Linked DNA regions of Homo sapiens: region 2 is linked to region 1. A link means that fine-mapping ties the variant in region 1 to the plasma level of a protein whose gene starts in the linked region. Region 1 holds a variant in brackets. A gene starts in the other region. All regions are shown on one strand. Distances are from middle to middle.

Region 1 (4,391 bases):
ATCACAATAATATTTCATTTTTTGCATTAACCCTTAATGGTTACAAAGTGCATCTATAATTAGTGTCACACCTAGGCTTCCTAAGAATCCTTTGAGAAGGGAGAAAGGGATAAAAGCATTACCTACCTTATGAGGATTTGTGAGAATCATACAATAAAAGACAAAAGTGCTTAGCACTGGAAGCTGATGCAGTGTAAACAATCATGAAATGTTACTACTAGCACAGTTATTAGCCCATATTACTGATGATATACCTCACTTCCTCAAGTTTGCACAGTGAAGTAGTAGAATTCAGCTAAGAATCTGTTTCCAGACCCCAAATCTGTCTTAGGAAACTATCAGTTGAGATCGCAATTATGGAAGGCAAAAAAACAGAGCCTTAAAGGGAGAGCAAACATGACAGGTTTTATGGTGGGTGAGTAGGCAGAAGTGTTTAGGGACCTTATGTGCATTGTCAAGTGCTCAGGGGAGAGGGTGAGGCCCAGGCTATGTACCACAGGCAGCTGTACAATTCATTTTTGGTTCCTCAAATGTTCTATCTTCCCTCAGCACCTTCACATAGAATGTGTTCCTTCTCCCCTGTCTTATTCTCTGTCTTCACCTCTCTTCCCAACACTTCACCCAACATTCACGCTTCCAGGCTCAACCCAAACATCTCTTCTTCCAGGATGCTCTCCCTGAGCCCCTGTCTGCACCTACTGACAGGCACTCACAGCACTCTGCATGCCTCCTTTAGAGAATAGTTGTCCAATATTTGTCTTCCCAGCTAGGAGGTAAGCACTGAGAAGTCTGCAACTTTCCCTTGCTTGCCGGCTGATGTCTCCCCAGCAGCAGTGTCCAGCACGTTTGTCAAGTGCGGAGCAGCTGCTGGCCACCTTAAAGATGGAAAGGAACGAGACTGAAAAAAGGGTGGGAAGTCATGAAAACAAATTTAAAATGCTTTACTATTTTGCCCTAGAACCACTCGGGGTGGTGCTATTGGGAAGAGCTAGGCAGTGAGAAAACATAAAGGAGGCAACAGAAAGGAGCGAGAAAAAAGACACAAGAAAGGCATGGAGAAGTCACTTGATGCAAAGAGTAGCAGACATAGGTGCTCATCCTGAAGAAGGCTGGGCCATGGATGCCAAGCCTTCCGCAGACATATGAAAGGTTGCTGAGAATTAGCCGTTTCTCTTTCTTTCAAACTTCCCCTTGTTTATGTCTGCCGTCTTTTGTCAGAAAGAGATGCAGGGGCCCTGCTCTCTCCAGAAGACTAACCCCTGCAGCAGTCCATGGAATCCAGGGCTAAATCTGCTGAGGGGAGAGGGAGGGAGGGAGAGTTTCCACCAGGATGACATATTTCTGACTCTGCCCTCTGACAACAAAGGGTGCCGGTGGTGGGACTTTTGGCAGGAAGCACCCACCTTTGGGGGAGTCAGAATCATGTTGCGGGGTGACAGTGACTGAGGCGGACCCTGGAGCCCTGGCCGTCTTCCCTGCGCGGCCCTAGGCAGCGGTGCCTGGATGATCTCCTGGGCGCCTCCTCCGAGGTTCAGGCAGGGCTGAGGGAGGATGCGATGCCCGAGCTCCGGCAGGGCCCATTTTGTTTATGTTCCCACTCCTTCGCCCTGGGAAGCCCCGAGTTCCCACACTCACTGAGGCAGGAAGGTCACCACGGACACCTCATCTGTCTGGGCCGTTGACTAACTACAGATAAGCAGCAGCTGCCACATCCATGTTGGGGTCACCTCCCAGTCTGCCCACCCTGGAACCAGGGGAGAAGCCCCCATCCCCGCCCACTTGCACATGGTGCCTCCCCAGCAAGGTCAGCTGCCCCTGAGGCCAGGATGGCGACATGGGGCCACAGAAAAACTTGCTTTTGCGGGAGAAGCAAGACATGACTAAGGGATTGAAAGGTCTTAGACATGACTACCCGAGAGCCCAGGCTTATATTTCCACCTTACCTTTTTTTTTTTTTTTAGATGGAGTTTCTCTCTGTCGCCCAGGCTGGAGTGCAGTGGTGCGAACTCTGCTCACTGCAACCTCCGTCTCCCAGGTTCAAGCAATTCTCCTGACTCAGCCTCCCGAGTAGGGATTACAGGCACGCACCCCCACGCCCGGCTAATTTTTGTATTTTTAGTGGAAATTGGGTTTTACCATGTTGGCCTGGCTGATCTGGAACTCCTGACCTCAAGTGATTCGCCCGCCTCGGCTTCCC[A/G]AAGTGCTGGGATTAAAGGCGTGAACCAGGGCACCCAGCCTACCTCACATTTGCTGAGCACTTTAGAGTTTCACAGCGCTCTACTGCCTGCATCTTTTCACATGACTCTGACCACCACCCGTGAAGATCGCAGAGCAGGTGTTTTTGTGTCCATTTTGCAGATGAGTAAACAGCCCCAGGATGTTCGAGACGCTTGCCAAATTCACACAGATAGTGGTAAAAGTCATGTTCACGGGGGCTTTGTGCTACCCCATGCAAACACACCACACCAGCTGAACAATCCCAATTTTTATCCCTAAAAGAGGACTCTTTCTCCCAGGTTTAACCTGTTTTCCACCCAAGCCTGCCGTGTAGTGAGAAACATGGCAGTTTTGGAGTTTGAATCTGATTCCTCTTCTTGTTAACCAAGTGATTTAGCAGTTGTGTATTTGGGACTTGATTTCCCTGAATATTTGCTTCCACATGTATAAAATGCAGATAATGCTGCCTAACTTGAACGGTTGTTGTAAGGTTTAAGAATAACAAGAAACATCTATTCTCTGTTTTCCATACCCTAAGCTTGGTTCTAAGCACCTTATGTTCATTGACTTATTAAATTCTCACAACATGCCTGTATGATTTCATGCATGCTATCATTATTTCATTGTACAGTTGAGGAACAATGGCAGAGAGGTAAAGAAACATACCCCAGGTTACACAGAGAGCAGATGGCAGAGCCAGGATTGCAACCCAGACTACAGAGCCGAGTGTTTAATCTCCAAGCTATATTGACTATGCAAATTATGTTTACTGTCCACAATCGGCACTCAATCAACAGCTATTACTAAGAATTGGGGAAGGGTTTGTTTGAATTACAAGAAAAATGATCAGCTAACTACCTGAACTAATTAGATGAATCAATAGTCCTGTCTACTCAAAAATATTTTCTATGTAGTATTCTGGTTTCTAATTTCTTCCCACTAGATTCATAGCTTTAGAGCACGAAGTCACCCAAGGGACTTTTGGCAATGTCTAGAGACATTTTTGGTTGTCACAAATGTGGGGTGCTACTGGCATCTAACGGGTTAGGCCAGGGATACTGCTAAACATCCTACACAGAAGAGTTCCTCAAAAAAGAATTATCTGGCCCGGAATGTCAATATGCTGAAGTTTAGAAACTACTTTAAAATTGAGTATTTAGAGTTGAGTCATGATTACTTAAGTTTTGAAGTGCCCTGCTGGATCCAAATTTGACACATATACTAATTTGTTTATTCAAATTGGACACATATACCAGTAAAGTAATGCCCTGTTTAATATCTAGTGATACATTAACATGGTTCCTTATATGTGATCATTTGTCATTACTTATTGTTGCTGCTGCTATTGTTACCAAGCAAAGCAGATGTGTGCCCTAGAAATGGTCAGGCTGATTTGGGGTTTGTGGTAGAGTTAGAAAATTGAAGCTGTTTTTCTGTTAAATTACGTTACCAACCTCCAAATTGCTGACATTTCTTCCAATATATTGAAGTAGGTCATAAATAAACTCACAGAAATGCCATTTCCTTTCAGCATACAACTCTATGAATCCCTGGTATCTTTCAGTGCAGTCAGCTCTTGTTTTGTGTGTTATGTACACACCAAACAGATTTTTAAAGTTTAATTTTGTTGGCCCCTTTTGAAAACTCCTGTAGCTAATGACATTTTCAAAATGATAAAAGTTTTATTTTGTCAAACAGAACTTTGACGAACAGAACACCCTTGGTACCCGATGCACGTGTGGCGCATCTGTGATGCCTGGCAGCATACTGAACTTTCTTACTTTGTTGGAAAACACTGCGTGTCACATCATCAACACTGATTTTCATATCATCATGCATTAGCTTCAAAGACTGTGTTTATAATCCTCAAAGGAGTTGTATCAGTCAGTTTTAGCCGGGTTGTGATACAGTAATGGATAATCCCCATATCCTAATAACAAAATAGATTTGTATTTGTTCATGTTACATGTACACCGTAAATTGGCCACTGATTACTTCATGTCTTTTGCATTCTTAATCTAGACTGAAGGAGCTGGCCCTATTTGGGATATGGTAGCATCATAGCAAGGGAAATGAGAAAGATGAAACCACATGATGGGTCTTAATAGTTTCTGCTCAGCATATATGACATATGTTTGCCTTCTATTGGTCAATGCAAGTCCATGGCCAAATTC
Region 2 (4,391 bases), 26 Mb before region 1:
GTGGGGAATGGGCTGAGGAGATCTGGCTTCCAGTCCTGGCTCCGCACTAGGTAGCTGTGGAATGTTGACAAGGTCGTGTCCCTTCTCTAGGCGTGTTTCCTAAGGGACTGGTGCAGCGGGATGGGAGGGGCGCAGGGTAGGGACCGCTTCCAAGGAGAGAGAGGACAGGCGGGAGGGGCTGATGCAGCTGGTCACTCCGCTGGAGTGGCCAGACTTCGCGGTGCCTAGGGCCGAGTTGAAGAAGAGCATGTAAGTCTGTTGTGGGCCCCTCACCAGCGCTGGGGGGCAGCGAGGTCACTGGGCAAGGATGCTCTGGGAAGTGACCTTGGTGCCCGGGAGGGGAGCACCCTGTTGTGATGCAGGCGGGGCAGCGCGGAGCCGGCGGCGCTGATTTCGCACTCTGGCCGCTAGAGGGCGCTGCCTTTCAGCCAAAGCCGAGTGACCCCCTACCTGCCCCGCGTTGGCCCGCGTCACTCCAGCCATGGGCCATCCAGCGAGCATGGGGGCTAGCCAGGGAAAGTCTAAACTAGGAGGGGAGATGAGGGGGTGCAAAGTTGGGCCTGGTGGGTCCTGGGGACGCAGCATGTACTAGAGCGGCACCTGGCCCTCAACAGAGGGGAGAGCGGGTGGTCGTGAGAAGTCTGGGAATTTTCCGGGCCCACTACACGCCAGGGGCGGGTCTCCCCTCTTAAAACGTTGTGAGCCCCAGCGCGGGCAGGGGGGAGGGTGCCCGTGGAGTTGGCATCCTCATCTTTGATGGTCCCCGGGGCTCCTGAGCTGCGCTGGTGGCCCCAGGGCTCGGTGCCTCTCTCAGGCGACAGCTCACAGACGGCGGGAAACTCTTCCCTCCCGCACCTTCGGAGGCGGTCCTGGAGTCTTGTGGACTCCTGGGTTCAAATCCAAGCTTTGTGTGACCAGCACATTGCTGGACCTCACTCAGCCTCACATTCCTCTTGTGTTTAAAACTACCTCATAGGAATGTGGTGACGGTTAGATGACACATAAAGCTTTGCCAGAGGTTTTCTGGGGAGGGTGGGGACAAGAGGGCAAGGAAGAGTCTCCATTTCCTCTGCCACCGGAGCCCGGATCTAACCTCTCAGAGGAGCTGGAAGGTCAGCTCTGAGCTCCACAAATACCTCTGTATACAGATCTCCCACGACACTGAAAAAGATGCCCAGAAAGATCTCATTTGCAGCTGTGAAGGGGCTTCTTTTTCAATCTCCACAACCCCAACTGCCTTAAAGTAGAACCAGACTTGTTAGTAGACAGAGGTTTGGGCTGGGGGGCCCTTGAAGCTCTTGTCTGAGATCTCAGGCTTCCTGCTCAACACACCAAAGCAGGTGCCTGACATAAAGGCGCCATGGACCTCTTTGGTGGTCTGGGAAGGCATATGGAGTCCCTTCTCAGAACAACATTTAAAAATTAATAAGATACATGGGATAATAAAGGGAACAAATTATGACAAGACAGTTGTCAAAACATTAGAAGAATGTGTGGTAGAGCAGTACACATGCTTCTTTAGATTTGACATCAGCCTAATAACTGTTGTAATTCTGTAGTAGTGCTGAGCGTTAAGGACATTTGGAGAAATCTATAAAAACTGTAATGAGATTTGAAAATATTTGTGTTTTCTATTGATGGCAAATTCTATTGTGGTTCATTGTCTACATTCATAACTGAAGCAAGTGCTGACTTTCAATTAAAGATTAGTGAAAATAAAGATGTATTTTTCCCCCCAATTCACAAATCCCATGAATAAATCTATTCACGGACCTCCAAGAGGTCCATGACGTGAACCACCTAGGACATGAACTTCCCCCGGAGGTGCCTCACAGGGCCAGCTCCAAGCCCCGTGGCACCTCCCGGCTTGTCTCAGGCCAATCCTTGAAGAGCTCCAGCAGATCTAAACTTTGGTAACTTTCCTCTGGTAATTTGAGGAATTCCTCCATTTGAGGAATGTCAGAATGGGGCCAGGATTCCTGAATGCCCATGGAAGAAAAGCGAGCATGCTGGTCTGGCGGGCAGAAATAACCTTCTCCCCAGGCTCCAGAGGGCAGAGGACATTTCCCTCCAAAAGGCAAGTTTCTCAGGGACCTCATGAGAAGCCTGTCCTCACCTGAGCAGTTCTGTCAACCATCCCATCCCTTCACCTGGACCCCAGGTCCCCAGCAGGCCTTTTTACCTCGAGACAGAAGTTCTTCTTTCTTGTTCTCAGACTGGGGGCTCACGTTGAAATGGCTCTCAGTCCTCAGATTGTCCTTGCATCTTGTTAAAACCCTATCTCTCCAGTTTCGTCATTGCTCACACTTTCATAGCTGTTATTATATTCGCTCTTTGAAAACCACAGAATGGGTTGTTAGAAGTCATAGATCTTCCGCCACCCCCACTGTGGATTTTTTTCTCCTTTCTCTCCTGCAACTGGTCCTCCATCTCCTTCTCCTTTCCTCTCCCTTGTTTTGTCTTTTTGGTGTTAGAAATAGACTAGGGTGCTGAGGGGGCTAAGAAAAACCACTTCTTAAAATTCTTTTCTTTACCCTGGGGAACAAAGATTTTGTATTTGCTAATTCATAATAAGGAAAGGACTGATGATAGAATAACTAGAAGATAAAAGGACAGAATGTCCTCTCAAGTATAAAGAAAGGTACCAAGTCTTCTCCTGAGAGTAGGTTTTGGTTAGAAGTAGGACAGAGAACACAGCTGCTCCAGGCTGAAAGGGAAGAAGGTCAGGGAGCTGTCAAGAAGGCTTGGGTGAGGGTGGTGGTGAGCAGGGGAGGCAACGAGTGGGGGCACCAAAATGGTCCTGATGTGGTGGGGGGAGGATGAATGACTGACCTTATCTTCCCACCCACCCATTTTTTTTCTTTTTCTTTTTTCTTTCTTTCCTTTTTTTTTTTTTTTTTTTGAGACAGGGTCTTGCTCTGTCACCAAGGCTGGAGTGCAGTGGGGCAATCATGGCTCACTGCAACCTTGACCTCCTGGGGTCGAGTGATCTTCCCACCTCAGCCCCTCAAGCAGCTAGGACCACAGGTGTACGCCACCACACCTGGATAACTTTTTATTTATTTATTATTTATTTATTTATTTATTTATTTATTTATTTATTTATTTAGAGATGGAGTTTCGCTGTGTCACACAGGCTGGAGTACAGTGGCGTGATCTCAGCTCACTGTAACCTCTGCCTCCTGGGCTCAAGTGATGCTCCTGCCTCAACCTTCTGAGTAGCTGGGATTACGAGAGCCTGCCACCATGCTGGACTAATTCTTGTATTTTTAGTAGAGACAGTTTCATCATGTTGGCCAGGCTGGTCTCAAACTCCTGACCTCAAGTGATCTGCCTGCCTTGGCCTCCCAAAGTGCTGGGATTACAGGCGTGAGCCACCACGCTCGGTTGATAATTTTAAAAATGATTTGTATGGATGAGGTCTCCCTATGCTGCCCCGCCTGCTCTTGAACTCCTGGGCTCAAACAATCCTCTGGCCTTGGCCTCCCAAAGTGCTGGGATTACAGGCCTGAACCACCACTCCCAGCTTCCCATCCATTTCTATTCTGTTCTGTTCTTCCTTGGTCAGTGATGGCTTGGGAGATTACAATTGTTCCTAAATTCTAGGGTTGTGCCCTTAGATGGCAGGAACATTAGTCTGAGAATTAGAAGCATTGGGCTCTAAGTCCTGCAAGGCTGGGCCAGGCCCTGTGCCAAAGGGCACAGCACACCAGGAAGCCCCACGGTTCTGGAGGAACACCTGTCATGATTGCCACCCAGTGCCAGGCTACCCAGGAATTCAAGGGTGGAGGGAGGGTGGGGGAAAATTTTTCATAACTAGTCTAGAGACTCTCTTTTCCTTCTTATTCCTGTTATTGTAGTACTCTGTGGTCCTAAAAACAGTAGGGTGCTCTGGGGTTTGAGAACTCCCAGATGGCTCCACTGAAGCCATCGTCAAATGAGACAGATATTAGAAATATTTCTTCACTCCAAGCCAGGCGCAGTGGCTCACACCTGTAATCCCAGCACTTTGGGAGGCCGAGGCAGGTGGATCACGAGGTCAGGAGATTGAGACCATCCTGGCTAACACAGTGAAACCTGTCTCTACTAAAAATACAAAAATTAGTTGGGCCTGGTGGTGGGTGCCTGTAGTCCCAGCTACTGGGGAGGCTGAGGCAGGAGAATGGTGTGACCCCCCGGGAGGCGGAGCTTGCAGTGAACCGTGATTGCGCCACTGCACTCCAGCCTGGATGCCAGAGTGAGACTGTGTCTCTAAAAAAAAAAAAAAAAGAAAAAAGAAAAGAAATACTTCTTCACTCCATCAAAGTGTTAGCTTTCACTGCAGAATGAGTCCATTCTGGGAGCCTGGGGGTTGGGAACCCATGTTGGGAAGAGGAGTGTCTCACCATCAT

Alleles and levels. Positions count from the first base shown, and alleles are read on the strand shown. Strength reflects both the effect of a copy and how common the allele is.
For the plasma level of the protein whose gene starts at base 2,243 in region 2, A is the low allele of the variant in region 1 and G is the other (strong association).

What was found. PIP is the posterior inclusion probability: the model's chance that the variant is causal. Protein levels are from antibody-based Olink assays in UK Biobank. Linkage for the fine-mapping came from a reference panel and not from the study's own genotypes, which makes the PIPs less certain.
Region 2: it holds the start of CD160, and the variant in region 1 is fine-mapped to the plasma level of the CD160 protein (UK Biobank, PIP above 0.99).

Annotation. Positions count from the first base shown.
Region 1 is chr1:120,107,295-120,111,685 of GRCh38, reverse strand. No RefSeq gene overlaps it. Among named protein-coding and RNA genes, the nearest start is that of NOTCH2, 40 kb to the right of the region's middle. The variant A/G (reference allele first, on the strand shown) is at 2,198.
Region 2 is chr1:145,717,351-145,721,741 of GRCh38, reverse strand. CD160 (CD160 molecule) reads right to left here and starts at 2,243. Exons shown (of 6, transcript NM_007053.4): 1 at 2,183-2,243.